4 linked regions of the Homo sapiens genome follow. The protein of the gene in region 1 interacts with the protein of each later gene in a pairwise test. Each region holds a gene or a part of one and is shown in the gene's direction. Other genes may lie near its edges.

Region 1 (4,808 bases):
TGTCAGTAAAAGTGTAAATTGGTACAGCCACTGTGGAAAACATCTGGCAGTTCCTCAAAAGGCTAAATATACAGTTAATATATGACACAGCAATTACACTCGAAGATATATACCCAAGAGAAATGAAAACATATGTTCACATAAAAACTTGTACACAAATGTTCATAGAAGCATTATTTATACTACCCAAAAAGTGGAAACAACATAAGTGTCCATCAGCTAGGCTGGGCACTGTGGCTCATGCTTGTAATCGCAGAACTTTGCGAGGTCAAGGCAGGCAGATCACCTGAGCCCAGGAATTTGAGACCAGCCTGGGCAACATGGTAAAACCCTGTCTTTACAAAAAATATATATATAAAAGCCGGGCGCGGTGGCTCACGCCTGTAATCCCAGCCCTTTGGGAGGCGGAGGCGGGTGGATCATGAGGTCAGGAGATCGAGACCAGCCTGGCCAATATGGTGAAACCCCATCTCTACTAAAAATACAAAAAAATTAGCCGGGCGTGGTGGCGGGCGCCTGTAGTCCCAGCTACTTGGGAGGCTGAGGCTGGAGAATGGCGTGAACCCGGGAGGCGGAGCTTGCAGTGAGCTGAGATTGTGCCACTGCACTCCAGCCTGGGCGACAGAGCGAGACTTCATCTCAAAAAAATATAGACAGATAGATAGATAGATAGATAGATAGATAGATAGATAGATAGATATAGATAACCAGGCAAGCTGGCTCACACCTGTAGTCCTAGCTACTTGGGAGGCTGAGGTGGGAGGATCACCTGAGCCTGGGGAAGTCAAGGCTTCAGTGAGCCATGATCACGCCACTGCACTCCAGCCTGGGTGACAGACTGAGACCCTGTCTCAAAAAAAAAAAAACAAGTTCTTTTCTCAAAAATTAAACATAGAATTATGTACTATATGATCTAGCAATTTCACTTCTAGGTATATACCCAGAAGTATTGAGAGTAGGCTTAAACAGATATTTCCACATTCATATTCACAATAGCCAAAAGGTAGAAACAACCCAATTTTCCATCCATAGATGCAAAGATTTTTTTAAAATGTGCTTTGTATATACAATGGGATATTATTCAGCCTTAAAAGAGAAGGGGGCCGGGGCACGGTGGCTCATGCCTGTAATCCCAACACTTTGGGAGGCCAAGGCAGGCGGATCACAAGGTCAGGAGATTGAGACTATCCTGGCTAACACGGTAAAACCCTGTCTCAAAATACAAAAGATTAGCCGGGCATGGTGGCGGGTGCTTGTAGAACCAGCTACTTGGGAGGCTGAGGCAGGAGATTGGCATGAACCCGGGAGGCGGAGCTTGCAGTGAGCTGAGATCACGCCACTGCACTTCAGCCTGGGTACAGAGCAAGACTCCGTCTCAAAAAAAAAAAAAAAAAGAGAAGGGGCTGGGCATAGCAGCTCATGCCTGTAATCCCAGCTTTTTGGGAGGCCGAGGCAAGTGGATCACCTGCTGTCCGGAGTTCGAGACCAGCTTGACCAATATGATGAAACCCCGTCTCTACTAAAAACACAAAAATTGGCTGCGCATGGTGGTATATGCGCCTGTAATCCCAGCTACTCGGGAGGCTGAGACAGGAGAATTGCTTGAACCCCGGAGGTGGAGGCTGCGGTGAGCCAAAGTTGCGCCATTGCACTCCACCCTGGGCAACAAGAGCAAAACTCCGTCTCAAAAAAAAAAAAAAAAAGGAGGGAAACTCTGACACGTGCTGCAACATTGATGAACCTTGGAGACATTAAACTAAGTGTCAAGGAAGACAAACATTGTATTGTTCCACTTTGGTGAGGTACCTAGAATAGCAGTCACATTCATAGAGACAGAAAGTAGAATGGTAGTAACCAGGAGCTGAGGGGAGAAAGGAAATGGAGAGTTACTGTTTAATGGATATAGTTTTGATTTAGTAAGATGAAAAAGGTCCCAAGATTGGACGTTCTAGAGATTGTAGGGGACTGTATGGTTGTAGAACAATGGGAATGCACTTAACTGCCACAGAAATGTACAGTTAAAAATGATTAAAGTGGGGCCTTGTGCGGTGGTTCACACCTCCTACACTTTGGGAGGCCAAGGCAGGCATGTCACTTGAGGTCAGGAGTTTGAGACCACCTCGGACAACATGGTGAAACCTTGTCTCTACTAAAATAAAAAATTAGCTGAGTGTAGGCCAGGTGCGGTGGCTCACGCCTGTAATCCCAGCACTTTCAGAGGCTGAGGCACGTGGATCACCTGAGGTCGGGAGTTCGAGACCAGCCTGACCAACATGGAGAAACACCGTCTCTACTAAAAATACAAAATTAGCCGGGCGTGGTGGCACATGCCTATAATCCCAGCTACTAGGGAGGCTGAGGCAGGAGAATCGCTTGAACCTGGGAGGCAGAGGTTGCGGTGAGCCATTGCACTCCAGCCTGGGCAACAAGAGTGAAACTCTGTCTCAAAAAAAAAAATTAGCTGAGTGTGGTGGCGCACACTTGTAATCCCAGCTACTCAGGAGTCTGAGGCAGGAGAATCACTTGAACCCGGGAGGCGGAGGTTGCAGTGAGCCAAGATTGTACCACTGCACTCCAGCCTGGGGGACAGAGCAAGACTGCCTCAAAAAAAAAAAAAAAAAAAAGATTAAAATAGAAAAAAAAAATTACTGAAGTGGAAAATTTTATGTTAGATGTATTTTATCATAATTTTTAACAAAATAAGTACTGAACATGCTACAACCTGGATAAACCTTGCAAACATGCTAAATGCTAAGGGGAAAAAGCCAGTCACAAAGTAAAAAATATCGTATGATATGATTTGTATGAAATGTTCAAAATAGGCAAGTCATGATCTGTTCCCTGAATTAACATCCCTACTGTTGATTTTCCCCCTCCCACTGTGTGGTCATTCTAAAAATATTTACATATATTTGTCAGCCAAGCACTGGTTTAGGATCTGGGAGTAAGATAGACATGGTTCATTCCTTCACTGAGTTTATGAGCCAGCATAGGAAACAGAAGTAGAACAAGTGCTAAACTTTGGTAAGTCTCTCAGGTATACCTTTCTCAGGGTAATATTAACTGAACCCCCCGCCCCGCCTCCCATTTATTTTCCTCCTAGCATTTCCCATTATCACAGGTTACCTTATTTATGTGTTCATTTTAACTCATTACCCTGTAAGTTTCTTAAGTGGCAGGCATGTTTTGTTACAGTTATAACTCACTCAGCACTTAGAACACTACCTGGCATATAGGAGATGTCCTGTTGAATTAATATGTAATGTTAATGTCACTGATGGGGAGGTACAAGTTTTTGTGGAAAGATAGGAGGGACAGATTTGTGTGTGGATAGGGGCTTGTTTAGAGAAGGCTTGCAGGAAATGACAGTTATCAGATCTAAATTCTAAAGGAAGAATAAAAGATGAAAAAAGTGGGGAGTTCACTAGGACTCAAGTGCTGCTTGCCTATGTGAGAAGGGGAGTGGTGAGAAGAGGGGCAGTACTGTTTCAGGTCTTGAAGGACCTTGTAAGCCATGACATTAAAGCTGCCAATTGATTACCTCCTTTTCTTTCCCCCATCTAGGTGGCCCACAAACTCTTTAACAACTTGAAATAAATGTGTGGACTTAATTCACCCCAGTCTTCATCATCTGGGCATCAGAATATTTCCTTATGGTTTTGGATGTACCATTTGTTTCTTATTTGTGTAACTGTAAGTTCACATGAACCTCATGGGTTTGGCTTAGGCTGGTAGCTTCTATGTAATTCGCAATGATTCCATCTAAATAAAAGTTCTATGATCTGCAAACCTGCCCGTCTTTTTTTTTTAATTGAGAATTTTTTTTTTTAATTTGATATTTTCTTTTAGTTTTGAGGGGGTGGGGAGCGGCAAGGAGGACAGGGTCTTACTTTGTTGGCTAGGCTGGAATGCAGTGGCGCAAACAGCTCATTGCAGCCTCCACTTCCTGGGCTCAACTGACCCTCTCACCGTGGCCCCAAGTTGCTGGGACTACAGCATGCATCACCATGCCCAGCTAATTTTAAAAATATTTTGGGCCGGGCGCGGTGGCTCACACCTGTAATCCCAGCACTTTGGGAGGCCGAGGCGGGTGGATCACGAGGTCAGGGGTTCGAGACCAGCCTGACCAACATGGTGAAACCCCGTCTCTACTAAAAATAAGAATATTAGCTGGGCATGGTGGCGGGCACCTGTAGTTCTAGCTACTCAGGAGGCTTAGGCGGGAGAATTGCTTGAACCCGGGAGGCAGAAGTTGCAGTGAGCCAAGATCGCGCCACTGCACTCCAGGCTGGGCAACAGAGCGAGACTCCGTCTCAAAAAATAAAATAAAAAATATATATTTTCTAGAGATGGCATCTCTCTGTGTCCAGGCTGGTCTTGAACTCTGGCCTCAAGCAATCCTCCTGCCTCAGCCTCCCAAAGTGCTGGGATTATAGGCATGAGCCACCACACATAGACCACAATTTTTAAACACATAAGAATAGATGTACCCATCACCTAGCAAGTATGTATGTCTTCATGAGGGCTGGGCCTGGCACGGTGGCTTATACCTGTAATCCCAACCCTTTCAGAGGCTGAGGCAAGAGGATCTCTTGAAGCCAGGAGTTCAAGACCACCCTAGGCAACATAGTGAGATCCTGTCTACAAAATTAAGTAGCTGGGTGTGATGGTGTTCTCCTGTAGTCCTAGCTACTTGGGAGGTTAAGATAAGAGAATAACTTAAGCCCAAAGTTCACTGGTTACATTGAGCTATGATCACTGAGTCTGGGACACATAGTTGAGACCCTGTATTTTTTAAAAGAAGAAGC
Region 2 (8,229 bases), on another chromosome or scaffold:
TTGGATGATATGAATAATTGTATGGGTTCTGTTTTCTTTAAGATTCTCTGTAATATTTTTAAAAATCACATGTATTTTAATTCCTAGTAGTTTTCAGTGGAAAATGAAATGTAAACTAAGCAGTCTTCCACAGCATCTGTTTATGTATATTCCCTCTGTTTAAAACATTTGCTTTTAATTTGAAGGGGAAATTTTCCATGGTCAGTTCAGGATACATTATTCTTAGTAAAATTCTTACCACGTTCAAATTCTTTTTTGTAAGAGTAAAAAAAAATTAATGAAAGTTGATTTTTCAATTGGGGATGTTTTGGTTTTAATGCATGATTTAAATAAAATCTTAATATCAATTAATTTAATTCAGATAAGTTAATTTAAAACAAGGCTTTTATGAAGGAAAAATGAAGCAGAAAAAAAAAAACAAGAGCTTTACTAACTAAAGTCACTAATGTTGAAGTAACCCAGTACATTTATAAACTGCCTGTCTTGACTGCATAAGACATTTTTTAGGAGTCTCCTTAAAACAAACCGTAAGGGGAAGTCTTAGATAAACAGAGTAGCATAACCGGAATTATCACTGAAATAAGCTTGCACAGTATCGCAATTTCATGGAAGTTTAATTTTGCAAGAGTGACTTAGCTATTTTTAATATCAACAAAGGAACCTAAACACAGCCTGGCCTTGTTATTCAGCATTCTGTTAATCAAAGTATTTGCCAACCCATAGTTTAGCATTCTGTAGTATGATGATTGAAGAAAAAATCTAAACTAACTTTTAGATCCTTAAAATAGATAAAATAATGTTAAGTGCTGTTTTAATAGTAAATATTTATTCATTAGAATAGTAATATTATGTTAGTGATGGTAAGAGCATAGATGGTAACACTTTGTTAACTAGGATCTATTATCCTCCCAGTAATGTCTCATAATAAAAAGTAATTTATTTTTCCATTGAGCATTCTCTATCAATAATTGCTTTTTTGTTTTTTGGGTGTTTTGTTGTTTTTTTTTTTTGAGATGGAGTCTCACCCTGTCCCCTAGGCTGGAGTGCAGTGGCGTGATCTCGGCTGACTGCAGCCTCCGTCTCCCAGGTTCAAGTGATTCTCATGCCTCAGCTTCCCGAATAGCTGGGAATACAGGCACTGGCCACCACGCCTGGCTAATTTTTTTTTGTATTTTTAGTAGAGACGGAGTTTTGCCATGTTGGCCAGACTGGTCTTGAGCTCCTGGCCTCAAGCCATCTGCCTGCCTTAGCCTCCCAAAGTGCTGTGATTATAGGTGTGAGCCACCGCGCCCGGCCAATAATTGTTTATTGTTTTAAATGGGAGTTTATTCTAAGATCAGTAATAATGCTATTACAATGTGTTAGCTTGAATCATATGAAATTGCCATGTTGAGACTGAGAAAAAATCAAAATCAGCAGTCTTATATATTATATAGTTAAACCACTCTCAACTCTTACTGGTTTCTTTTGGTATTTACCTTTATACTTATTTCATTTTTAATGTTTATACTGCTATTTCTTAGCTCTTCACTTTTGGATATTCTCTGTGGACTTCTATTTTGGAAGTTGAAGACTTAACTGTCTCACATAACTATCCTTCCATTTCCCACTCATACTTGACAGTTAGGTCGGTATTCAGGATTTATATGACTGACAGTGTACCTGTTATTCACAGTTGAGCCACGTAGGGTGCTATTACTGTGTTTTCTTCTTGAACAACTTTTGTTGCTCCTGAATTAAATAATTGCCTCTTTTGTTTGTTTGGTTTTCATTTGCTGAGTTTTCTTTGTATCAGTCACTAATTCATTCAAACTCTATGACAAAACTGATTATCTTTGAATATTCTCAGGTAGTCACTCACTTTCATATCTTTTCCCCAGGAGATGGTCCTGCTGGAGCCCCCTCTCTCCTACTCCAGTCTGGAATTGTTTGCTCCCTGGACTACTGCATAGCCATCATCCTGGGACTTCCCTTTGTCATCATCTTGGGAATTCCCTTTGCCTTCCTCCTGTGTTAGGTCTTCTATTTCCTGGACCCTGTGTCTTCCTTATTCTTGAGTAGCTTCCTGAGAAAGGGTACATACAAAATCTGAAATTCCTTCCTGAATTCAGAAGTTACATGTCTGGAAATGCCTTCATTTTACCTTCACTCTTGAATGGTAGTTTAGCTTGGTGTTAAAATCTGGATTGAAAATTAATGTGACTGTTTTGAAGACATTGTTCCATTAGCTTCCAGTGTCACTATTGAGAAGTCCAATGTCATTTTAATCCTCATTCCCTTTTTCTTCCCACTCTGAAAGATTTTAGGATCTTCAGTTTATCCCTGGTGTTCCTGACATTTCATGATGTACCTTGGAATAGATATTTTTCTTTACTTTTGCTTGTGGGGTAGATTGTATTTTCCAAAAAGGCTGTATATGTATGTGTGTGCATACTCCCCCCATCTCACCCAATATGCTATTCTTTGTGCCTCCATCAAGCAGTGGGGTCTTTGTTTCCTCCTCTTGAACCTGTGCAGACAGGAATTCTCCCCCGAACGTTTTGGATCTTGAGCATTGTGTTTTAAGAGCACAGCTGCAAGATCAAGAACATGCACCTGGCACTGCTAGGTGCCCAGCGCCATCAGGCCAGCATCTCCCTTCCCATTTTCCTTGTGACCACTGTTTAGGCATTGAGATTAAGCACTGTAGATGTGTATGTGTTCATTGAGAGAGGGGATTAAGTTTTTTTACTTTTAAATGAAATCAACAATGAAAATATCAATTGACATCAGAGAGAGTTTCTTTTAAGCAGTGAAATGAACCAACATGACGGCTGTCAGGTGCATTTTTTAAAAATCCACCTTAGGAAATGACAAAAAAAGAAATGACCAAAAAGAAACTAACTTGAGCTTCATGATTAAATATGTCATTATTAAATGTGACAAATATATTGTTTGCAAGAATTTCTGTGATGAGAAGATGGAAGCAAAAGGAGCTGCATAAATCACAGCTTCACAGAACATTGTCAGTATTTTTGTGTTTATCTCATGGATACATATTATTATTATTATTTTGAGATGGAGTCTCACTCTGTCACCTAGGCTGGAGTACAGTGGTGCAATCTCGGCTCACCACAACCTCTGCTTCCCGGGTTCAAGCAATTCTCCTGCCTCAGCCTCCCGAGTAGCTGGGACTACAGGCGTGCGCCACCATGTCCAGCTAATTTTTGTATTTCTGGTGGAGACGGGGTTTCACTATGTTGGTCAGGCTGGTCTCGAAATCCTGACCTCGTGATCTGCCTACCTCAGCCTCCCAAAGTGCTGGGATTGCAGGCATGAGCCACCGCATCTGGCCTTGTTTGTTTGTTTGTTTGTTTGTTTGTTTGTTTGTTTGTTTGTGACAGGGTCTCACTCTTTCACCCAGGCTGGAGTGCAGTGGCGTGATCTCGGCTCACTTCGACCTCTGCCTCCCAGGTTCAAGCGATTCTCCTGCCTCAGCCTCCCCAGTTGCTGGGATTACAGGTGCCCGCCACCATGCCTGGCTAATTTGGATACATATTTTTAAAACATCCTTTGTTTACTCTTTAAAAATTTTAAAATTAAAAACCCTTTTTTTTCTATTTATAGCTGCTTTATCATTCATTTGGCTTTTCCATGACACCACCCAAGTGGCTGGATATTACAAGAGAACTTCAGATTCATGACCAAAAATCCGAAGTAGACACTCAGCACTGCCCGGCAAAGCTACCATTGAATCTTAATAAGATCTTTTTGCCTATCACTATTTCATAACTTCTCTCCACTCCTTAAACTTATCAGCAACCCACCCCTCCTACTCAGATAAGCTGACCTCATAGTTCATTGAGGGTTTAGGAGATATCAGACAGAAACCACTCATCTTCCCCCCAACCAAATGTAGAAATCTGCCTTCCTTAGACCCATGTTTTCTGTCTCCTGTCGGAGGCAAGCTCCCCTTTCTACTGTGTTCCTCCTCACATCTTCTATACCTCATGCCCCCTCATATCTCACAGCTTTAGCATTTTTGCCCTCTCTCTTGCATCATCAGCAACTCTCCAGGGGGCTATCCATGTCAGCATACACATATGCCGTGACGTTGCCCATCTTTAAAATCAGAATAAGCTTCAGCAAACAACTTTTCCCTGACCCTCCTCTATCCCTTTCTATTTACCTACATGGTTAAGTCTCTCAAAAGAGAAGTTTACGTGCCTTCCCTACCTCCTCTATAGTACGTACCACCCTCTGAAATTCTGTTGTTTAATAATTTTTGTGTGACTTACCCCTAATAGAAGGTCAGCTCCAGGAAGGCAAGGACCTCATCTGTCCTGTTTACCACTCTGTCCCCTAGGACAGCAGGTGGCACAAGTGTCTACTCAGTACATGGGCAAAAGAGGCACAACTGACCTGGTAAAATAGCTTTTGATTTTTAAAAATTTCTAACAAGAGAATCCATGTTTTTTAATTACTCACCATTTTTTGCTACACTTAAGAATTGAAACAATTATGAAGAATATATTAATGATCAAATTTTGCCCTATGTTACATTTCATTCTTTCATAAGTATGACTTAATATTGGCAGTCTTGGGCCGGGCATGGTGGCTTATGCCTGTAATCCCAGCACTTTGGGAGGTCAAGGCGGGTGGATCATGAGGTCAGGAGTTCAAGACCAGCCTGGCCAAGATGGTGAAACCCCATCTTACTAAAAATACAACAAATTAGCCGGGTGTGGTGGCGGGTGCCTGTAATCCCAGTTACTCGGGAGGCTGAGACAGAGAATTGCTTGAACCTGGGAGGTGGAGGTTGCAGTGAGCCAAGATTGTGCCATTGCACTCCAGCCTGGGTGACAGAGCGAGACTCTGTCTCAAAAAAAAATATATATATATATAATATATATAAATAATATATATATAATATATAATATGTATAATATATATATTATATTATATTATATATTATACATATTATATATTATATATTATATATATTATACATATTATATATTATATATAATATATATATTATACATATTACATATATAATATATATATTATATATATAATATATATATTATACATATTACATGTATAATATATATATTATATATATAATATATATATATATTTGCAGTCTTGCACCTGGACTCTGGCATCAGACTGCTTGGAGTTGAATTCCAGCTCTTTCACTTTTTGCTATGTGACCTCCAGCAGGTTTCCTAACCTCTCTCTTTCTTCATTTGTAATGTGGTTAATAATAGTTCCTACCTCATGTGTTTGTTTTGTGTTCCAAATGAGATAATATGTAAAACACGAAACTCAGTACTCGTCTTGGGAGTAAACTCAATGAAAAATAATAGTAATTATTATAGCCTCCTCCAGTTTATAATATTTGACTCTGACTTGGTCTCTATAATATTTTTGTTCAAAATACTATATCTCCTAGGGTATATGGGCTATCAATATGATGATTCAGCTGTTCTTGGTTTTGTGGGGGGCGGGGGTGTGTTTGTTTTTAAGAGAGAGAGTCTTGTTCTGTCGCCCAGGCTGCAGTGCAGTGGTGTGATCTCCAACTCACTGCAGCCTTAACCTCCAGGGCTCAAACAATCCTCCCACCTCAACCTCCCAAGTAGCTGCGACCACAGGCACACACCAGCATGCCAGGCTAATTTTTTTTCTTTTTTTTTTTTTTTTTTTGTAGAGACAGGGTCTCACTATGTTGCCCAGGCTGGTCTCAAACTCCTGGGCTCAAGTGACCCTACCAGCACCTCCCAAAGTGCTAGGATTACAGGCAGGAGCCACCATGCCCAGCCAATAAATCATTTTGATCACTTGATAAAATATTTTTATTTCAAGCCAAGTCCTGTTCTTTGTTTATTTGGTTTTCTCAGAGGTGAGGTTCTTTCTTCATGTTATTCCACATTAAGTTTTCTTATTTCTGGAAATGGAGCTTTAAAAACACCCAATATATCATCAACAGATTTTTTTTTCTTTTGAAACAGCTATAAGACAATGTTCTTTTCATCTACTAGCTAGCTGGGAGGGTAAATATATGTAGCAGTACGAAGTATATTCTGAGGACCACATAAAAAATACAGACAGGCTCTGTAGAAGTTCAGGCTAGGGAGAGTCAGGTACTTCTAACCCTAAGGGATTCCTACAGCTTTTCTGCATGTTAAATAGTCTGTTTTAGCTTATTCTCTTATTACTTGTCTTGGTTTTTACTTTGAAAGTTTGCTTAATAATCATGGGAATATTTTAGATTTTAAAATACAAAATATACAAGCTAAACTTGAGAGCAGTTTTTAGTTGTAGAAACTGTTTCTTGAAGTAATTGACTTAGCGTTTGCTCTGCCTCTTTCTTTTCTTACCTAGGTAGGTAGTGGGGACTCCTTCAATTATCTGAGCAATTCAAATCTCAGAATGTAGTGTTGGGTAAATTGAGGGTTCTAAAAGAATGCCAGATGGTTTGAAAGGAACTGTGAGCATTCCAACTAGTGCAGTCCTTTGAAAGCCAGCTGGCAGAGCCTCCTGTGCTTTGGAGGTAGGAACCAGACACTTTGTTCCATGCCAGCTGGCCCAAGAATAGCTGGCCAGTGGCCTTGCTTTTGGCTGGCCACTCTTGGGAAAGCTGGCCTGGGCCCTCCATGTGCCCTAAGGATAGTCTGATACCAGAGAGTTGCACTGGCCCTCCATAGTACCCCAGGGAGTTGGAGAAAGCCTGCAGTGGCAAGGGAAAGGAAACTGCTATTTAGATAATGTTACAAGTGAACCTCGTGTTACAAATTTGCTCTGGAAATTTAATGTAATTTGAATTTTTATGGATTCACTACTGTTAGGTGTATTAAAGTTGCAATGAACTGTAGTGAATGTTTTTATATTGTAAGTAACTTCCAGGTTACCTGCTTTTAAAGTTCCTGTTTTTATTTGTCAACTTTTCTTAAAGTGAGGTTTGCCCGTTCCTTTTGTTGTCATCTTCTAAAGTTTTGATCATTTGAATTAGGAAAATTTTTCCATCTTGTTGTAAAGCTTGCTCCTGTGTAAACCATAGACTTTTTTTTTTTTTTGAGACAGAGACTTGCTCTGTCACCCAGGCTGGAGTGCAGTGGTGCTCTTTCTGCTCACCGCAACCTCTGCCTCCTGGGTTCAAGCGATTCTTCTGCCTCAGCCTCCCAAGTAGCTAGGATTACAGGCATGCGCCACCACACTCAGCTAATTTTTGTATTTTTAGTAGAGACAGGGTTTCACCATGTTGGCCAGGCTGGTCTTGACCTCAGGTGTTCTACCCGCCTCAGCCTCCTAGAGTGCGGGGATTACAAATGTGAGCCACCACACCTAGCCATAAACCATAGATTCTATAGAAGGTTAATTATGTATGTAGTCTTAGCTTGTCTCTCATTTTGATGGTACTTATGTTTTCCCGATTAGACAGGTGCTTGTATCAGATACAGTTCTTCACTTCCTTTAGCAGATTTAATATCATAATTGTTTAATTGACAGCAAAATAAGTGCAAATATCATACTGTAAGAATAATGAGCATTCAGTTCATTTGATGACAGTGTTTATTGAATTCTCAAAATTAATAGTTTCACTGCTGTCTATCAGTATGCTTTATGTTGCCTTAATTTTTTTTTCAAATGTGCAGATTGAATGGTGCTGCAGTATCTGTTAAGTTTATTAAGTTCATCTTGGCAAACCAAAAAAAAATTATAGCTACCTGTATCTCTTTATTGTTCCTTCCCAAATCTGAGCATGTGAAATTATGCTCAGTGATATAAATTTGAAATAGAACCTAAATATTATATCTAAATAGTCTCTTTATCTTGGACTGAATGAAAAAAGTTGACAGATAATGAAACGTCAAATTATGAGTTAATGTAGTTTGTGGGAAATGGGTGGGAAGGGAAATCAAAGGTGTAGGCTTTCATTCATTTTCTTCAGCATGAAACAAGTTGCAAAACTTCTTCAGAAATGTGTTGGAAATCTCATGCATGGCTATAATTAAATAAAGGCTTTTACTCAAACTTGTCGATTATCTCTGTAAACAGGGCAGATGGAATTTTCGGCGTAGTAAGATTTTTTTTTTCTTAAATCACAGAACAGTATATCAATAGCCAGGGGCAATATTATACTCAGAAAATCATCTTTCATATTGGTTAACCTACACTAAAAAGCTTTTATGCCAGTAGCTTTAAATATATTGCCTATTTACTGCTTACAGCAATCCTCAAAGAGTT
Region 3 (8,757 bases), on another chromosome or scaffold:
GAACAGCCTTCCATACCTAAGGTAAAGCAAAGATTATTTTAATAACTTATGAGTTATTCTAAGTTCAAATATGAATTCCCCAAAGCAAAATGGCTACTGATTTGCTCACATTTGTTGCCTATTACCAAACAAAGGAAAAATGAAAATGCTAAATAAAAATATTGTTAGGACTGAGATGCAGCTTATCAGAATTCAGATCTTTTCCAAGTGTTTACTGGTGATGCCATCATATATATGTATTATATAAGGCTGATAGGAAAACTTAAATTTAGGAAATTCATTTAAATTTCTAAGGTAACTCTCTGGTACTTCATTCCTTTCTCCTGTTCCTTCCTCTATCTTTTATCTTTACTATATAGATACTATATTAGTTTGTTGTATTTAAATAAACAGGGAATGTCAGTTCTCTCTATTAACTTGGTTAGATTACAGCCCTAATTATTCAAACACTCACATAGGCATTGTGGTGATTTAATAGATGTAATTAAAGTCTTGAATCAGTTGACTTTAAGTAAAGAAGATTATCCTCAATAATCTGGGTGGGTCTGATTGAGTCAGTTAAATGTACTTAAGAGCAGAACTGAGGATTCCCTGAGGAAGAAGAAATTCTGCCTGTAGACAGCAGCTTCAGCTCCAACCCTAGAGTTACAGGGGTCTGTCCTCTGGATTCCGGACTTGCTGGACCAGCCCACAGAACTGTGTAAGCCAATTCCTTGCAATAAATCTCTTAGGATATGTCTTCTGCTGACTCTGTTTCTCTAGTTGAATCTTGACTGATAAAAAGTTTTATTTCAGATTCTTTCAACATACTGGAGGAGAATAAAGAGAGGAAAAAGAAGTAGATACTTGTTTGTAAAATTGCTCACTTAGATATCCTCTCTAAAATTATAGAGCTGAACAGATGACGGAATCTCAGAACCAGTTAAATAAGAAACACTATGTGTAGCTAAACTGAGGTTCAAGCCTACAAACTGATTAAAAGATATATATACATTATAAAAGATTCAGAGATAAAACTGGAGTCATTATTGTGTTAATTTTCATTTATATGTGAAAAGCAATAGTTTCTTATATTTCTAAAATATGCTTTAGAATTTAATGTCCAGAAAATGATTGCTAGTGAATTTTCATTAGGTAGAAATAGAAATTTTCAGATAATGTAATTTTACCTCTTTCCAGTCATTCTACAGGTAATTATACAAAAACCACACATATTCCAAATGCAATTCATTACTAAGATCTGTGATCACACTAACCATCAATAGCCACTTTGAGTAGTTCTTTGTGGTAGAGGAAGTGATAAAAAACTAAAAATCAGTGAAGTGGTAAGGAAAATTTGGAACATCGCCTCCCTGTGATTTAGGCCTGTGTAGACGGCTTTCTGTAGGCAATGGCATGTCTTACTGCTCTTTAACTGGTGGGACTCCCAACGAAGAATCCTGGCATTTGGGTGTGCAGCTCAATATATCTGACGATATAAGAAAGAGGATGATGAATGTTAAGTTGCTAGTTTACCTCTAGAGGGAATGGCCCTGCTTCTGGGAAGGTGGGAGGGGTTCCCAACGGGAAGTACGCCTCAGGCAAAGAGGTCCCCATGAACTCTATATAGCATCACACTATAGAACAACATCAAAATCATTCTTAGTAGGAAGGCTTACAGATACATTACATCCACATGAGAAAATGCTAACAATGTAGAGTCCTGAGGGTTATTCTGAAGATGAAACACCAACCATGTAAAATGATAGTTGTAATTATCTAACACAATTTTGATAATACTGCTCTATCACTGTACATATTGGTACTTGTCTTAGTTGGGTTCTCCGGGATGCAGATGCTGATATAAAGTTTTCAGTGCAAGAGATTCACTGCGGAGCAATGTCTGTTAAAATAAAAAGGACTGGGCAGGGGGAGCTGTCGCAACATGCTGCAGAGCTGAAAAAGTCTCTGCCAGCTTCACAGGGAACTCTGAAAGTTTGTCCCTTTAAGGGCTTCAGTGTCTGGCAAAAATAGCCAGAGCCTTGTACCACTGCCTTGCTCAGTTAGTGGCTGGGTGCCACCCTGAAAATAGCACCTCCTCAGGTTGAAAGCTGAGGGAGACCCTGACAAAGCTACCAATTGGAAGTTGTCTGACAGCCACATTCCTTCCAGCTGGGCAGAGTGTGCTTTCTTGAAAGGGAATCTGGGCAGCTTATCTCCATGTCTACTCCAGTACTGCAGAGCAGCACTAGTAAAATTTTGGGTGGCTGTGTGTTTGGAGATGAAAATTGATCAAGCCAGAATGAGAGGTGTTAGTGAAGTGCACTAAAATTCTACAATTCTACTTGAGGTAGCTTCTAGTGCTGCACCACTGCAAATTCCTTAGATAACTAGAGTTGTCGCCATAATACCAGGGATTGAAAATATTATTGGATGTTGCTTAAGGTCTGTAAAATGGTAAAGAATATTGTTATTCCCACTGCATCTCAAGTAAGTTTCTCCTAGTGGGACAACTCAGTGCCTCTGCTTGTAATGGTCCATTACAGGTCACATGGGCTTAGTTGTAAAGTGGGCAAAAGAAGCTCAGAATGGCTCTTTTGGGGATGATGAATAAGAATTATTATTTTACATAGATCAAGAAGGTGGGATTTAAAGAAGTCAGATTGGCTCTTTGTGATACATTGCTATCTTTTTATGTCTTCTGCACGTTTCACAGTAGTGGTGGCTAGGAAGAGGAAAGAGACAAGGACTCTTCTTTATTAGGTGCATTATGCTTAATATAGTGCTTAATATGGTGGAGGCTCTGATGTCTGTCATCACCTACTAGTGATTTGGCATTAGCCAAGTTCATGAAACTCCTTGTGCCTTATTTTCCCCCCTCATCTGTTAACCAAGGAGTGCAACTGTGCCTATATCATGAAGTTCTGGTGAGGCTAAAATAATAGATGTATAGTACTGGCTTAGAAAGGGCTCTATACTAGTAAGCTGTTGTTCTACTTCTCCTTCCCCTCTTTCTCTTCCTCATTACAAATACGCTTTCCTGCTGAATTTGTTACTCCACTAGATTAGCAAAATGTTCAGAGAATCTGGGAGGAGGGTAAAATAGAAAGAATCTGTTACTCTATCAGGATTCAAGATGTCTGCTTTTGGTCAGATCTTTGATTTTTACTTTTATGTTCTCAGTGCTGCATTGGGTGTAAGAAATGGTCTCTGCCCTGAGCAGCCATCTATTTGAGAAACAGATGAACACATGAATGATTAATGAAAACACATATGCATATAAAATTAAGTTCTAAATAAATCTTATAGATCGTAAGTGATATAAGGATCTAATTTCAGTTTGCTGATACTGGCTGTTGTTTTGGTCATCGAGAGGCAATACCATTTGGAGTGAAATTGTGAGAGTGAGCGTTTGTACCAGTAATACCAATAAAATGGCATATGTTTATTGGCTTAGAAACTAAAATACATTAAGATCAAAACAAGGCAAGTTTAACAATATTTAAGTATGAGATATCACTGCCTCTTATTGTTAGCACAGTAATGCTTTATGCTATTAGACATGTCAAAACGGCACAAATAGGAAGAGTTGATGAATGCTTTAAAAAGAACTATGAGGAAGGCTTACATTTTTTAGTTGTCAATCTCTCAAAGAGTTTCTGTTTTTATTCTATCTTGCTATTTTAACCAGTTGATTAGGCTCACCCAGTGGCAGTCTTCATTTCAAGGATCTCCTCTGGACATTCATGAAGGAAATAAATGGGGCTCCAGATCCCTTTCCTTCCCTTCAGGGCGCTCCACTGTAAGATCATTTAGGGAAAATGTGGTGTTATGTTAAAAACATAGCTGGGCCACATCAAGCAGCATCATAGTTTTTAGGGTATAGAACGTTGGTCTTCAGGTTAAAAGGTACTTTTCGCTGCTCTGTCATACTCTTCTACTTGCTAGAGAAATATGCTTTATGCCGTGTCATGTGTGGTTAACCAGACAGTGAGATACTACTAACAGTGCTCCCAAGTGATTCCTTGCTGTTAAATCAATTGGAATTATTGAGTATTACCACAAAATAATCCTATCTGATTTCATTACTTTCTTCTAACGTCCTTCCAGTAACCTAGAACTCTAGAGACCTCTTTCTTTGAGAGTTGTCTGGAGAGTCCGTTGGATTTTTAAATCTCTTATTACCAAAAAGTGGAAAAAAGAGTTTAAAAAGTAACCAAAGAGCTAGTGCCTGTAGTCTCAGCTACTCCAGAGGCTGAGGCAGGTGGATAGCTTGGGCCGAGGAGTTCGAGGCTACAGTGAGCCATGACTGCGCCTGCTAACAGCCACTGCACTCCAGTCTGGGCAATATAGTGAGACCCCATCTCTAAAAAAACAACAAACAAAAACAAAAATTACCCCACAGAAGAATTTCAGGGCAGTGGAAATACTCTGTAGGATACTATAATGATGGATACCTGCCATTACACATTTGTTCTAACTCGAGGAGTATACAACAACCTGAGTGAACCCTGAGGTAACTATGGACTTTGAGTGATGATGAGGTGTCAATGCAGGTTCATCAGTCGTAACACATGTACCACTCTGAGGGGGGATGTTGATAATGGTGGGGGGTTATGCATGCGTAGGAGCCAAGTGTATATGGGATATCTCTGTAACTTCTCAATTTTTCTGTAAACTCTAACTACTCTATATTAGTCTTTAAAAAATCGCTTATCTTACGAATGATTTTGAATAAGCGTTTTGGGAATGTTCTAGAGATGAATCTCCTCCCCATGTCCTACGCTGGGTGAGGAAGTGTCGGGTACCCGGGCGACCTGTCCTCAGGTGTTCTAGGAACGCGGCCCCATCCCTTGTCAGCCTCTGTCTCTGTGTGGTGAGAAGGCGCACTGGCTCGTGCCTGCGCGAAACTCGCGCACACAGAAAAGACCAATCAAGGACGGGTCATTCCCGCCCCCCGCGCGCCTTTTGCGACCGCCCACTCGACAGGTTGACAACCTAGACAGCTCCCCCGGACTTGCCTTACTTTTCCATCTCCTCCCACCCAGCTATACCCTCCCACTGGCGGCGCGGATGGCACGCCGGCGGAGCCAGCGAGTCTGCGCGAGCGGTCCGAGCATGCTCAATAGCGCGCGCGGCGCCCCGGAGCTTCTCCGCGGAACCGCGACCAACGCGGAGGTCTCGGCGGCCGCTGCGGGAGCCACAGGAAGTGAAGAGCTTCCGCCGGGAGACCGCGGCTGCAGGAACGGAGGCGGAAGGGGCCCTGCGGCGACGACGTCGTCGACGGGGGTGGCCGTGGGAGCTGAGCACGGAGAAGACTCCCTCTCTCGGAAGCCGGATCCCGAGCCGGGCAGGATGGATCACCACCAGCCGGGGACTGGGCGCTACCAGGTGGTGAGTTCCCGGCCTCCTGTGCCTCCCGGGACTGCCTCCCGCCGCGGCGTCCCGAGAGTCCCTTTCCTCAGGTTATTCCCGGAGGAAAAGCTGTGGCTTTTTTTTGTTGTGTTTTGTTTTGTTTTTTTGGATCTTCTGGCTGGAGCTGCTTCACTCGCCTCACCTGCGCACTCCTGCCTAGGACTCCTTCGAAACCCTTCTCTCTCGCCCCAAGTCTGCTTAGCTCCTCACCCGCACCCTTAGCCCCGCTGTGAGACGCCCTCCCTCCACACACCTTACAACTTGTATCCGTTTTAATTTCTCACTTTATCATTTTCTTATTCTCTGACTCAGTCACTCCTGAGACATTCTAGTCGATTGTCTACTGGAAATGGGGCTGACTTCACATACCTGCCCGGAAGGTGATCGCCGTCATAAATGGGGTGGGTGAGTAGGTGGGTGGAGGTGTAAGTACTGCGTGGGGTGGGATGTGGATTTGGCAAAAATGTGGGTTAGGAATTGTGGAACTGTAGAGAAAGACTAGCCATAATGCTGATCTTGTCTCTCTGCTCGTTAACCTTGTCATTTTGTCCTTTTCCATTATGTTAGTATTAAAAATGACTGTATTTTTTGGTAATCCCCACTTTTTCTTTCTTTCTTTCTTTCTTTTTTTTTTTTTTTTTTTTTTTTTTGGTTAGAGGGGAAACAGAGGTAGTTTTAGTAGAACAAATTCTAATCTTGTTTGAAAAATTATTTTTCGTTAAATACAAGGTTTTCCAGCTTAACTGTGTAAACTTTGGTAACTATGTTGAAAAAAGTGAAATGTGTTCCTCTATATTTTCAGTGTCAATTTTTAAATATATTTTTCTTTGTGTATTCTGGTGGTGACGTTGGAGATTCCTGTTGTAAACCTTAGTTAAAGATGGACTGAGCAATAGTTGACTCTGCTGTTGTGCTGTTGCAGCTAGGTAGCATGTCATTCTACAAACTTTCAGCCCATTTACTGAGGGAGAGGAGAAAAACAATACATAGCACTGGTGATGCAGTTTATGGTTTATAAAATTTTACAAATTTAGGTATGTTAGTCCCAGGTTTCAACTTTCAAATCTATTTGCACATGTAAGACAGGTTATAAGCCAAGACTTTCTATTAATAAGTACATTTTGGCAAATATGAAGGAACTGTAAGATGAGATCCTAAAGTATGTAATTTTGCATTTTTCTAAGATAAAAGCTCATGAGGCTTCCATTTTCAATTGGTTTGCATTCCTTAAAACCTACAAAAGGTCCATATTCCGAATTCTTTGAAAATTTATCAGCTTTTCTCAACAACTTGGGAAATACTGTTTCTCCCAGTATGGAAAGCGTTTTTCAAGTTGTCAGTGTACACCCTTTTGATGGTTTGAAAGGCATTTCTAGGTTTGTAAATGTTAGCAAAAATAAAATGATATAAATATTGAATAATATCAGCAGTGAAACTTGTTTCATTTTTCCTACAGACGTCACTACCCAAAACACTGTTAATTTATGTAGCTCTCAGTTTTAAGATATTTGTTTTCCCAACAACTCCTTTCAAAATAAATGGGCATATTTTATTGCTGCCCCCTCCCCTCGTTTTTTTCAAACTGACGATGTGTCCTACATAGACTTTGAATGTTCCTTGAGAACAGAGGGCAAAAATCAGTTCTTCTAAAGATAAAGCCTACCAGTCCCTCTAAAGGTAGTACTTTAGGTAGGACATCGATCTGTTCTCCTTGTAAGGCAACTTACAACTAACATTGTAAGGCAATGTTAGTGTTAGAGTTACACAATTTACGTAGTCATTTAACCTATCTAGTATAACTCTTGGTTTTGTTTATAATGGCCTGATTAATAACATCAGTGTATGCCAGAGAAAAAGCTGAATTGACATTTTCAATAGACTTTTTAAACTAGGGATCAGTCTTCAGCTCTGGCTTATATGATGAACACAACTATTTTGTGGTTGCCTTTAGCTCAGTTTTTGGGAAAACTGGAATGCTTAATAAACTGGAGCAATAAACCACTTGAGTTGTTGAATGTTAAGGGATGACTAAGTCAGGAGATAGGCAAGTATACTTAGGGGTGAGATGGTATGCAATGTTAATTTTTCACTTACTTAAAGAGTTTAAAAACAGCTTTTCATACTGGAAAGCTAGCAGTGATGCTCAGGGTCATCAGAAGGACTTACTACCATTAGCCAATGCACAAGCTTTATCTAGAAACTGCTTTTTCTGTGATCTCTTCTTTCCTTTCATTGTTAAAAGCATCCAAAATTTATTGAGTAAAGCAGTGGATAACAGTTTAGAGCTACAAAAATTCTTGATTGTTACCCTTCTAATTTCAGAAAAAGCCAGGTATGACACGTAATTTTATGGGAAATTCAGTTTTGTTTGTTAGTAAATGAGCAGTGTTGCTAACTATGACGAAGTTGACTTGGCTTGCAGCTGCTAGACCACATTCTAACTTTGATGTTCGTTATTTTATTATTTATTTATTTATTTATTTTTATTTTTTGAGATGGAGTGTCTGTCACTCAGGCTGGAGTGCAGTGGCGTGATCTCGGCTCACTGCAACATCCGCCTCCTGGGTTCAAGTGATTTTCCTGCCTCAGCCTCCTGAGTCACTGGGACTACAAGTGTGGTGCACCACACCTGGCTAATTTTTGTATTTTAGTAGAGATGGGGTTTCAGCATGTTGGCCAGGCTGGTCTCGAACTCCTGACCTCAAATAATCTGCCCGCCTTGGCCTCTCAAAGTGCTGGGATTACAGGTGTGAGCCACAGAGCCCGGCCAAAGTTCTCTATTTTAAAGGATTATGTACCTGTACCAAGCTGACTTCTAAGATTGTACCTGTACCAAGCTGACTTCTTATTCTGTGTACAAGTTAAATTGGCAGTGTTGATTGTAGCAGTAATTTCCCAAACTGTATTTCAGAATGATAGTAAGTGTAACTGGAAGATTTATAATACATTAGCATATTAAAACCATGAAAAATTCTGCAGTAAAGACAGTGATTTGGATTTCTTTAACCTAGCTCTTCCTAATCTTTGTTTTGTTTTGTTCTTTGTTTTTAAAATTTTAAGATTATGTTAACATTTCTACAATATCAATTTTCTATGGAACATAATTTGAAGTATTCATTCTACAAAGATCTGAGTACTTTGCTCTTGTATCTGGGGAATTAGAGTTGCCCTCGATAAATTAGCTGAGAAGGAGGCTTGAAGGAGGCCTGACTATTAACGGGTAAAAAACCTACAGGTTTTAAAGCCATCTGGGCTTATATATTAGATTGTGCTGTTTGCAATTTGTGAGACCTTGCTTAGTTACTTTACATCTTGAAGCCTCAGTTTCCTTATATTAGTATCTACCTGACAAAGATTATTGTG
Region 4 (8,229 bases), on another chromosome or scaffold:
GCCCCGATCATACTTGCACATACTTTTGCACGTGTCCATGTGTATCTTGTTCTCAGACATGTGCATTCATACATTTGCACATGTGTATCATGCACATGTATCTACAAAGGCATGCTAGATAAATAATGAAATAGGTTCATAATTCTATTTTGTAATGTTCTTCACACAATGTTATTAATGTCTTCTATATAAAATATTTTTAATGTCTGCATGGCATGTAATTGTATGGCTGAATCATAATTTAACTAATTGCTTATCTTTGGTCACTAAGAATGTTTACAGTTTTTTTCATTGAAATTTATTTCACATACGTCTTCAACCGTTTCCTTAGCATAAATTACTAGCCATGGAAATGCCTGGTCAGCGAATATGCATTTTTAAAAGGCTTTTGAATTATAGAATGATGGTGAATTGTCCAGGCAACTTGATAGGAGCATGATACTCTTTGGTTGTCACACAGGGCTGTTCTGACTTCTATTTGATCTGGTTAATCAAATTGAGCTAGTTTTCTCACCAAGTAAATGTAATGGAAAACTGTATGATTCATTCATAAATGCAAACACAGTTTTGTCTTTATGGTCTTTTTATTGGTAGTGTAATATGTGGACAACTTGAATTTAGCATAGTGACAGACTATGCAGAAAGGGTAGGCTCAACCAGGTGTGGTGGCTCACACCTGTAATCACAGCACTTTGGGAGGCCGAGGTGGGCGGATCACTTGAGGTCAGGAGTTCGAGACCAGCCTGGCCAACATGGCAAAACCTTGCCTCTACTAAAAATACAAAAATTAGCCAGGTGTGGTGGCACTCACCTGTAATCCCAGCTACTTGGGAGGCTGAGGCAGGAGAATTGCTTGAACCTGGGAGGCAGAAGTTGCAGTGAGCCAAGATTGTGCCACTGAACCCCAGCCTGGGTGACAGAGTGGGACTGTCTCAAAAAAAACCAAAACAAAACAAAACAAAAAATGGCCAGGCAAGGTGGCTCATGCCTGTAATCCCAGCACTTTGGGAGGCCAAGGCAGGCAGATCACAAAGATCACGAGGTCAAGAGATTGAGACCATCCTGGCCAACATGTGAAACCCCATCTCTATTAAAAATACAAAAATTAGCTGGGCGTGGTGGCGTGCACCTGTAGTCCCAGCTACTCAGGAGGCTGAGGCAGGAGAATCGCTTGAACCTGGGAGGCAGATGTTTCAGTGAACTGAGATCGTGCCACTGCACTCCTGCCTGGCGACAGAGCAAGACTCTGTTTAAAAAAAAAAGCACGGTGTGGTGGTGCACATCTGTAACTCCAGCTACTTGGGAGGCTGAGGCAGGAAAATCACTTGAACCCAGGAGGCAGAGTTTGCAGTAGGCTGGGATCGCGCCACTGTACTCCAGGTTGGGTGAGCAAGACTGTCTTAAAAAAAAAAAAAAAAAAAGGCACCGAGGTGGGCGGATCACAAGGTCAGGAGATCGAGACCATCCTGGCTAACATGGTGAAACCCCATCTCTACTAAAAATACAAAAAATTAGTTGGGCGTGGTGGCACGTGCCTGTAGTAGTCCCAGCTACTCGGGAGGCTGAGGCAGGAGAAACCCGGGAGGTGAAGATTGCAGTGAGCCGAGATCGCGCCACTGCACTCCAGGCTGGGCGACGAAGTGAGACTCTGTCCAAAAAAAAAAAAAAGAGGCTAGGCTTATAGGTTCCCCTGGCATTATTTTATTTTTTTTTTCATTTTTGCCTTTTGAAACTGAGACTGTCTCAGACAGTATGGAAGCACTATTTTAGAAAGACCTAAGTAGGCCCATACTGAGTGCTGAGAAACCTGTTGCGTGTTTCTCTCTCTGAGGACGTTAACTCCCGTTCATCCATAGATGAACGCAGATCTTCTGCGGTAGATGTGTGCATGAATTTTGCCAATTCATTTCAAGTATTTTGGGATACTTGGATTTGAATTCAATGTAAGTGGGTGATGATGACACTGCCATGTAGGTTCAAACAGATTACAGAATGTTTAGTTCTGGACTTGCCTCATTACCTGCTAAAGAAGTTGCCCACTTGTGAGCATCACCAATACTCTGTATGATAGTTTGATGACATTATAGTGCAGATTTTGGAATGGTATACTTTTGGATAAATTCTCTCAGGATTATGGAGGAATATTTTGATGAGCATAAGAATTTCATCTCTGATAGGTCAAACCATATTCATGTTAAATTATTAGATGAAGTAATGATCCTGGAGGAAGGAATGAATAGTGCTTATGTGGCTTTTTTGCTTATTTTTCAGTTTCAAAAGAAGTTATATCACAGAATGCCAACATAACCTAAATGTCAAAGTTTCTTAAGTTATATGCTGTATTTGTGGCCTACATGGTCAGTGATCAAAGAAAATTTATAAAAATATTAGGAAGATGGGTAAATTATTCCTTTGAAAACTTTAATTGTGGTAAAATACACATAAAATTTACCATGTTAACCACTTTTAAGTATACAGTTTAGTGGCATTAAGTACATTCACATTGTTGTGGAACCAGTCCATCTCCAGAACTTTGTCACCTTGCAGAACTGAAACTCCATATCCATTAAACAATAACTCTCCATTCCCCCTCCTCCAGCCCCTGGAAGCCACCATTCTACTTTCTATGTATTTGACTACCGTAGGTACCTCTCATAAGTGGAATTAGACAGGATTTGTCCTTTTGTGACTGGCATATGTCACTTAGCATAATGTCTTCAGAGTTCATCCATGTTGTAGCATGTGTCAGAATTTCCTGCCTCTTTAAGGCTGAATAATAGTCCATTTTATATATGTACCACATTTTGTTTATGCATTCATTTGTTGACGGATGCTTGGTTTGCTTCTACCTTTTGGTCATTGTGAGTAATGCTGCTATAAAAAACATGAGTCTACAAATATCTTTCAAGTCCCTGCTTTCAGTTCTTTTGGATATACCCAGAAATGGAATTGCTGGGTCATACGGCAATTCTATTTTTAAGTTTTCGAGAAACTCCCATACTGTTTTCCATGGCAGCTTCACCATTTTATTTTCCCACCAACAATGCATAAGGATTCCAATTTCTCCATATCCTCAACATACTTGTTATGTTCTCTTTTTTGTTTTTGTTTTTTTGATAGTAGCCATCTAATGGGTGTGAAGTGGTATCTCATTGCAGTATTGATCCCTATTTCCCTAATAATTAGCGATGTTGAGCATCTTTTCATGTGCTTATTGGCCATTGATATTTTCTTTAGAGAAAATGTGTATTCATGTTCTTTGTTCATTTTTGAATTGAGTTTTTTGTTGTCGAGTTGTAGGAGTAATTTCTTCATGATGTTTACATTTTCAACTTTTTACTATGGAAATTTCAAACACATACAATAATAAAGTAGTGTAAGAAATTTTATGTACCATCACCCAGCTTCAGCAATTGTGAATGAATGGCCAATATTATTTCACTTATACTCACCACATTATTTTGAAACGAATCCTAGAAATCATATATTGATAAATATTTCTATGTGTAACGCTAAAAGAAAACAAATGGTATGATATTTCAAGAAGATATCACATGAGGAATATATCATGAGAGCTCTCTTGTAATCTGTGAGGAGTATGGAAACAGGATTTGTCAGTGTCGGGCTGTGGATCCATAACTAACTGTCCTTTGTATTGATTGGGCTCACTCTTGCCAAGCCTCATGCTTTGTTTTTGTAGCAGTGATAGATTCCTGTTAATCTATCCTTGTTTTCTTACCTGATCCCATGGGTGACCACTTGTTAGGCAAGATTTATTTGGCTTAATCATACTATCTGTGTCCTGAAAATAGGGCAGTGCTTCCTGGTTTGGGCAGAAACCAAGGCCCAGTTGAACTGCTCTAGGGAATTTTGCTCTAAGCTGATGCCACCAGTAGTTTAACTGCACATAACTTCAAATTGTTTTATCCTAGACATTAATTATATTTCATAATTTTATGGTAGATTATAAAGTAAATCCTACCATGAGAATAACTTCATATTTTTATTAAGAAAGAAAAAAAGTCTCCAAGAGATTCAAGTGACATCCTCAGATTTATTTGTTTTTAGGGCTTTAAAATAATTATTTTGGTTTCTTAAAATGTTCTTGTTTTACCTTTAAGCAAGTACAACAGCTTAGAAGAATTATATTCTTTTTTGTTTGTTTGTTTTGAGATGGAGTGTCTTTCTTCTTGCTCAGGCTGGAAGGCAATGGCGCGATCTCGGCTCACTGCAACCTCCGCCTCCCAGGTTCAAGCGATTCTCCTGCCTCAGCCTCCTGAGTAGCTGGGATTACAGGTGCCCACCACCACGCCCAGCTAATTTTTTGTATTTTTCGTAGAGATGGGGTTTCACCATGTTGGCCAGGCTGGTCTTGAACTCCTGACCTCAAGTGATCTGCCCGCCTCGGTCTCCCAAAGTGCTGGGATTACAGGTGTGAGCCACTGCGCCCGGCCTATATTCTTATAATAATGGACAATTTAGATAAAGCAACTTTAATACTTCTGTTCCATTCATACTGAAAATTGGCATGATGGTTTATCTTTTTTTCAAGTCATTGTTGCCAATAAGCTAGGCAACTGGCAAACATCATGTATGAAATTTTTTGGGCTTGACATACTTTCCAGTGGTAATTGCTTCTAGTGGTTGGCTAGGTGGGGGTATGAGTTAGAGTAGGCTCTGGGTATCCACAGGTTCTACATTCGCAGATTCAACCAACTGCAGATTGAAAATAGGGGAAAATAACCATACAATAATAAATAATAGTGCAAGTAAAATATACACTATAACAGCTATTTTACATAGCATTTACATTGTATTAAGTGTTATAAGTAAAGATGATTTAAAGTACATGAGGTAGGTTATGTGTAAATACTATACCATTTTATGTCAGAGGCTTGTGCATCCTCCCATTTTGGTATCTGTGGGGAGTCCTGGAACCAATTCCCAGTGGATACTGAGGGATGACTGTATGATATGTCTTGTTAACTTGACCAAGAGTGGTAGTAAAGCAAGTGTAACTTGATATCACTTAGCACATCCTGCTGTTACAATAAGGCTTACTCATGATTTTTCTGAATAACATAATTTATATTAAATGTCCTAAATACTAGCACTGATCAAGTTTAAGAGCATTCCTAGTGAAATATTTTCTTATTAATGCAGTTCCCTTCATATGTATATTTATTTATTTATTTCCTTCCTTCCTTCCTTCCTTCCTTCTTTCTCTCTCTCTCTCTCTCTCTTTCTTTCTTTCTTTCAACAGAGTCTTGCTCTGTTCCCCAGGCTGGAGTGCAGTGGCGCAATCTTGGCACACTGCAACCCCTGCCTTCCAGTTTGAAGCCATTCTCCTGCCTCAGCCTCTGGAGTAGCTGGGACTACAGGTGCCCGCCAGCAGGCCCGGCTAATTTTTGTATTTTTAGTAGAGGTGGGGTTTCACCATGTTGGCCAGGCTAGTCTCGAACTCCTGACTTCAAATGATCTACCCACCTTGGCTTACAGAGATTACAGGTGTGAGCCACCATGCCCAGGCTACCTTCATATGTATTTTTCTTTTCTCTTCTCTCCTCTTCTTTTTTATTTATTTATTTATTTATTTTTGAGACAGGGTCTGGTTCTGTCACCTAGGCTGTAGTGCAGTGGTGAGAGCTCTGCTCACTGCAATCTCCGCCTCCTGGGTTCAAGAGATTCTCGTGCCTCAGCTTCCCAAGTAGCTGGTGTTACAGGTGCATGCCACCACGCCTGGCTAATTTTTGTATTTTTAGTAGAGATGGGGTTTCACCACGTTGCCCAGGCTGGTCTCGAACTCCTGGCCTTAAGTGATCTGCCCATCTCTGCCTCCCAAAGTGCTGGGATTACAGGCATGAGCCACCGTGCCCGGCCCATATGTATAATATATTTCTTATCCCCCTCCCCGAGCAATTTAGCATAATCTTTGACCATTTTTCTGTTTTTGTCTTTTAAATTAGTTTATCTCAGCAATATTAATTAGTACTTACCATAATCAAAGGCTTGAATACAATTTGGAGGTCTATCTGGAGACTGGACAATTTATGAATAGAGATATAAGGGTTTAGGGAGTGGTGCCTGTTTAATAATGATTTCATTTTCTTTTTTTGCTTTTTTTTTTTTTTTGAGACGGAGTCTCACTCTGTCGCCAGGCTGGAGTGCAGTGGCGAAATCTCAGCTCACTGCAACCTCCGCCTCCTGGGCTCAAGTGATTCTCCTGCCTCAGTCTCCTGAGTAGCTGGGACTACAGGCGCCCGCTATCACGCCCAGCTAATTTTTTCTATTTTTAGCAGAGGGGGTTTCACCATGTTGGCCAAGATGGTCTCGATCTCTTGACCTCGTGATCCACCCGCCTCCATCTCCCAAAGTGCTGGGATTACAGGTGTGAGCCACTGCGCCTGGCCGATTTCATTTTATCATTCGATGCTTAAATGTGATATTTAAAATTAAGCATTTTGTATTAAATAGTAATACATTCTTCATGTGCTAGATTCAAACAGTAACTTTCTAAAGAAAAACTTGATTTCCCTTTCCTCCCTATCTCTTTGCAGAGCTGTAACTGCTCCTCAAGTTTGGTGTGTGTTCTACAGGCTTTTTTTTTTTTTTTTTTGAGACAGGGCCTCACTCTGCACCCAGGCTGGAGTGCAGCCACATAGTCTCGGCTCACTGCAACCCTCCATCTTCAGGCTTTCTTCTTAACCTTTCCTTGGCTTTAAATGTTTTTTAAATAAATCTGTACTTTCAAATAGACTTTACTTTTTGGAACTTTTTTCCCCCTAAGATGGGTTCCTGCTATGTTGCTACCCAGGCTGGCGTCAAACTCCTTGGCTCAAGCGATCATTCCCCCACTGACCTCCCAAGTAGCTGGGACCACAGGCACACGCCAGCACACCCAGCTGAAACATTTTTAATTTTTCAGAAACACTGAGAAGACAGTAGAGAGTTTCCATATGCCCTATGCCCAGCTTTCCCTATTAGCATCTTATATCAGTATGGTACGGTTTTCACAATTATTGAACCAATATTAGTACATTGTTATCAATTAAAGTCTGTACTTTGTTCAGATTTTCTAAGTTTTTACCTAATGTCCTTTTTCTGTTCCAGGATCCCATCCAGGATCCAGGATGATATAATGTGGTAATGTTACATTTAGTCGTCCTGTCTCCTTAGGCTCTTCTTGGCTGTGAGTTTCTCAAACTTTCCTTGTTTTTGATGAGCTTGACAGTTTTGAGGAGTATTGGTCAGGTCTTTGTAGAATGTCCCTCAATTGGGGTTTGTTTGATGTTTTTCTCATGATTAGACTGGGGCTGTGGATTTGGGGGAAGACCACAGGTAAAGTGCTGTTCTCATCACATCATATCAAGAATGCACACTTTCAACATGACTTATCATTGTTGACATTGACCTTGATCACCTGGCTGAGGTAGTGTTTCTCAGGTTTCTCTTCTGTAAAGATACGTTTTACCCCACTTTCCATACTTACTCTTGGGAAGGAAGTCACTATGCATGGTCCACACATAAGGAGTGGGGAGTTATGTAACACCTCGCTGAGGGCCAAGTATTGACATGAATTATTTGGAATTTCCTGCATGGGGCATTTGTCTCTGCTCTGATAATTTGTTTAGTATTTATATCTGTATAGACTCATAAATATTTATTTTATTCTTCCAATTATCCAATAACTGCTTTATTTTATTGCTTAAATTGCATACCTCCATCATTGTGGATTTTTTTTTAACCACTTCCATACTTTTTGGCACTAGGCTCATCTTATATATTTCCTGCACTATCCTAGAATCAGGCATTTTTCCAAGGAGCCTAGGTTCCTTTTATTGAAAAATAATACTACAAACCAAGATCTGTGCTCCTTGCTACTAGGGTGTCATTGCTTTTAGGCCTTCTAAGCTGACAGAGCAAGGAACTATATATGTCTGTATATTAACCTGTGGGTATACACATCTGTAACTATTTCTGTATGTACCATCTATCTATATTAAGCTAAACATAAGTTCATACTAATATCTCCACCTCTAATTTGTTACCATATGGGTCACTCTAGCCTACTCCCCTTATCTATAAACTCCCACTCCAACATGGAGAAACCTGGCTCACTTCCACCATCCATTTACATCATTCTTCAGTTCTGATATACATGTGTAAGTTGTATCAGAATTATTAACCCACACCCCTGTGGGAAATAGTATTATAACCACTACAGGACAA

The links.
Region 2: the proteins of UQCRH (region 1) and RNF24 interact in binary tests that used the Homo sapiens proteins (3 or more experiments, as listed by UniProt).
Region 3: the proteins of UQCRH (region 1) and NDFIP2 interact in binary tests that used the Homo sapiens proteins (3 or more experiments, as listed by UniProt).
Region 4: the proteins of UQCRH (region 1) and NDFIP1 interact in binary tests that used the Homo sapiens proteins (3 or more experiments, as listed by UniProt).

What each region holds. Positions count from the first base shown.
Region 1 is NC_000001.11:46,312,988-46,317,795, forward strand, and holds the end of UQCRH (cytochrome b-c1 complex subunit 6, mitochondrial isoform 1 precursor), read left to right. Parts: intron 1-3,564; coding exon 3,565-3,597; 3' UTR 3,598-3,789; downstream 3,790-4,808. UniProt on the Homo sapiens protein: Component of the ubiquinol-cytochrome c oxidoreductase, a multisubunit transmembrane complex that is part of the mitochondrial electron transport chain which drives oxidative phosphorylation.
Region 2 is NC_000020.11:4,005,198-4,013,426, reverse strand, and holds part of RNF24 (RING finger protein 24), read left to right. Parts: intron 1-8,229. UniProt on the Homo sapiens protein: May play a role in TRPCs intracellular trafficking.
Region 3 is NC_000013.11:79,476,152-79,484,908, forward strand, and holds the start of NDFIP2 (NEDD4 family-interacting protein 2), read left to right. Parts: upstream 1-5,003; 5' UTR 5,004-5,052; coding exon 5,053-5,373; intron 5,374-8,757. UniProt on the Homo sapiens protein: Activates HECT domain-containing E3 ubiquitin-protein ligases, including ITCH, NEDD4, NEDD4L, SMURF2, WWP1 and WWP2, and consequently modulates the stability of their targets. As a result, may control many cellular processes.
Region 4 is NC_000005.10:142,111,131-142,119,359, forward strand, and holds part of NDFIP1 (NEDD4 family-interacting protein 1), read left to right. Parts: intron 1-8,229. UniProt on the Homo sapiens protein: Activates HECT domain-containing E3 ubiquitin-protein ligases, including NEDD4 and ITCH, and consequently modulates the stability of their targets. As a result, controls many cellular processes.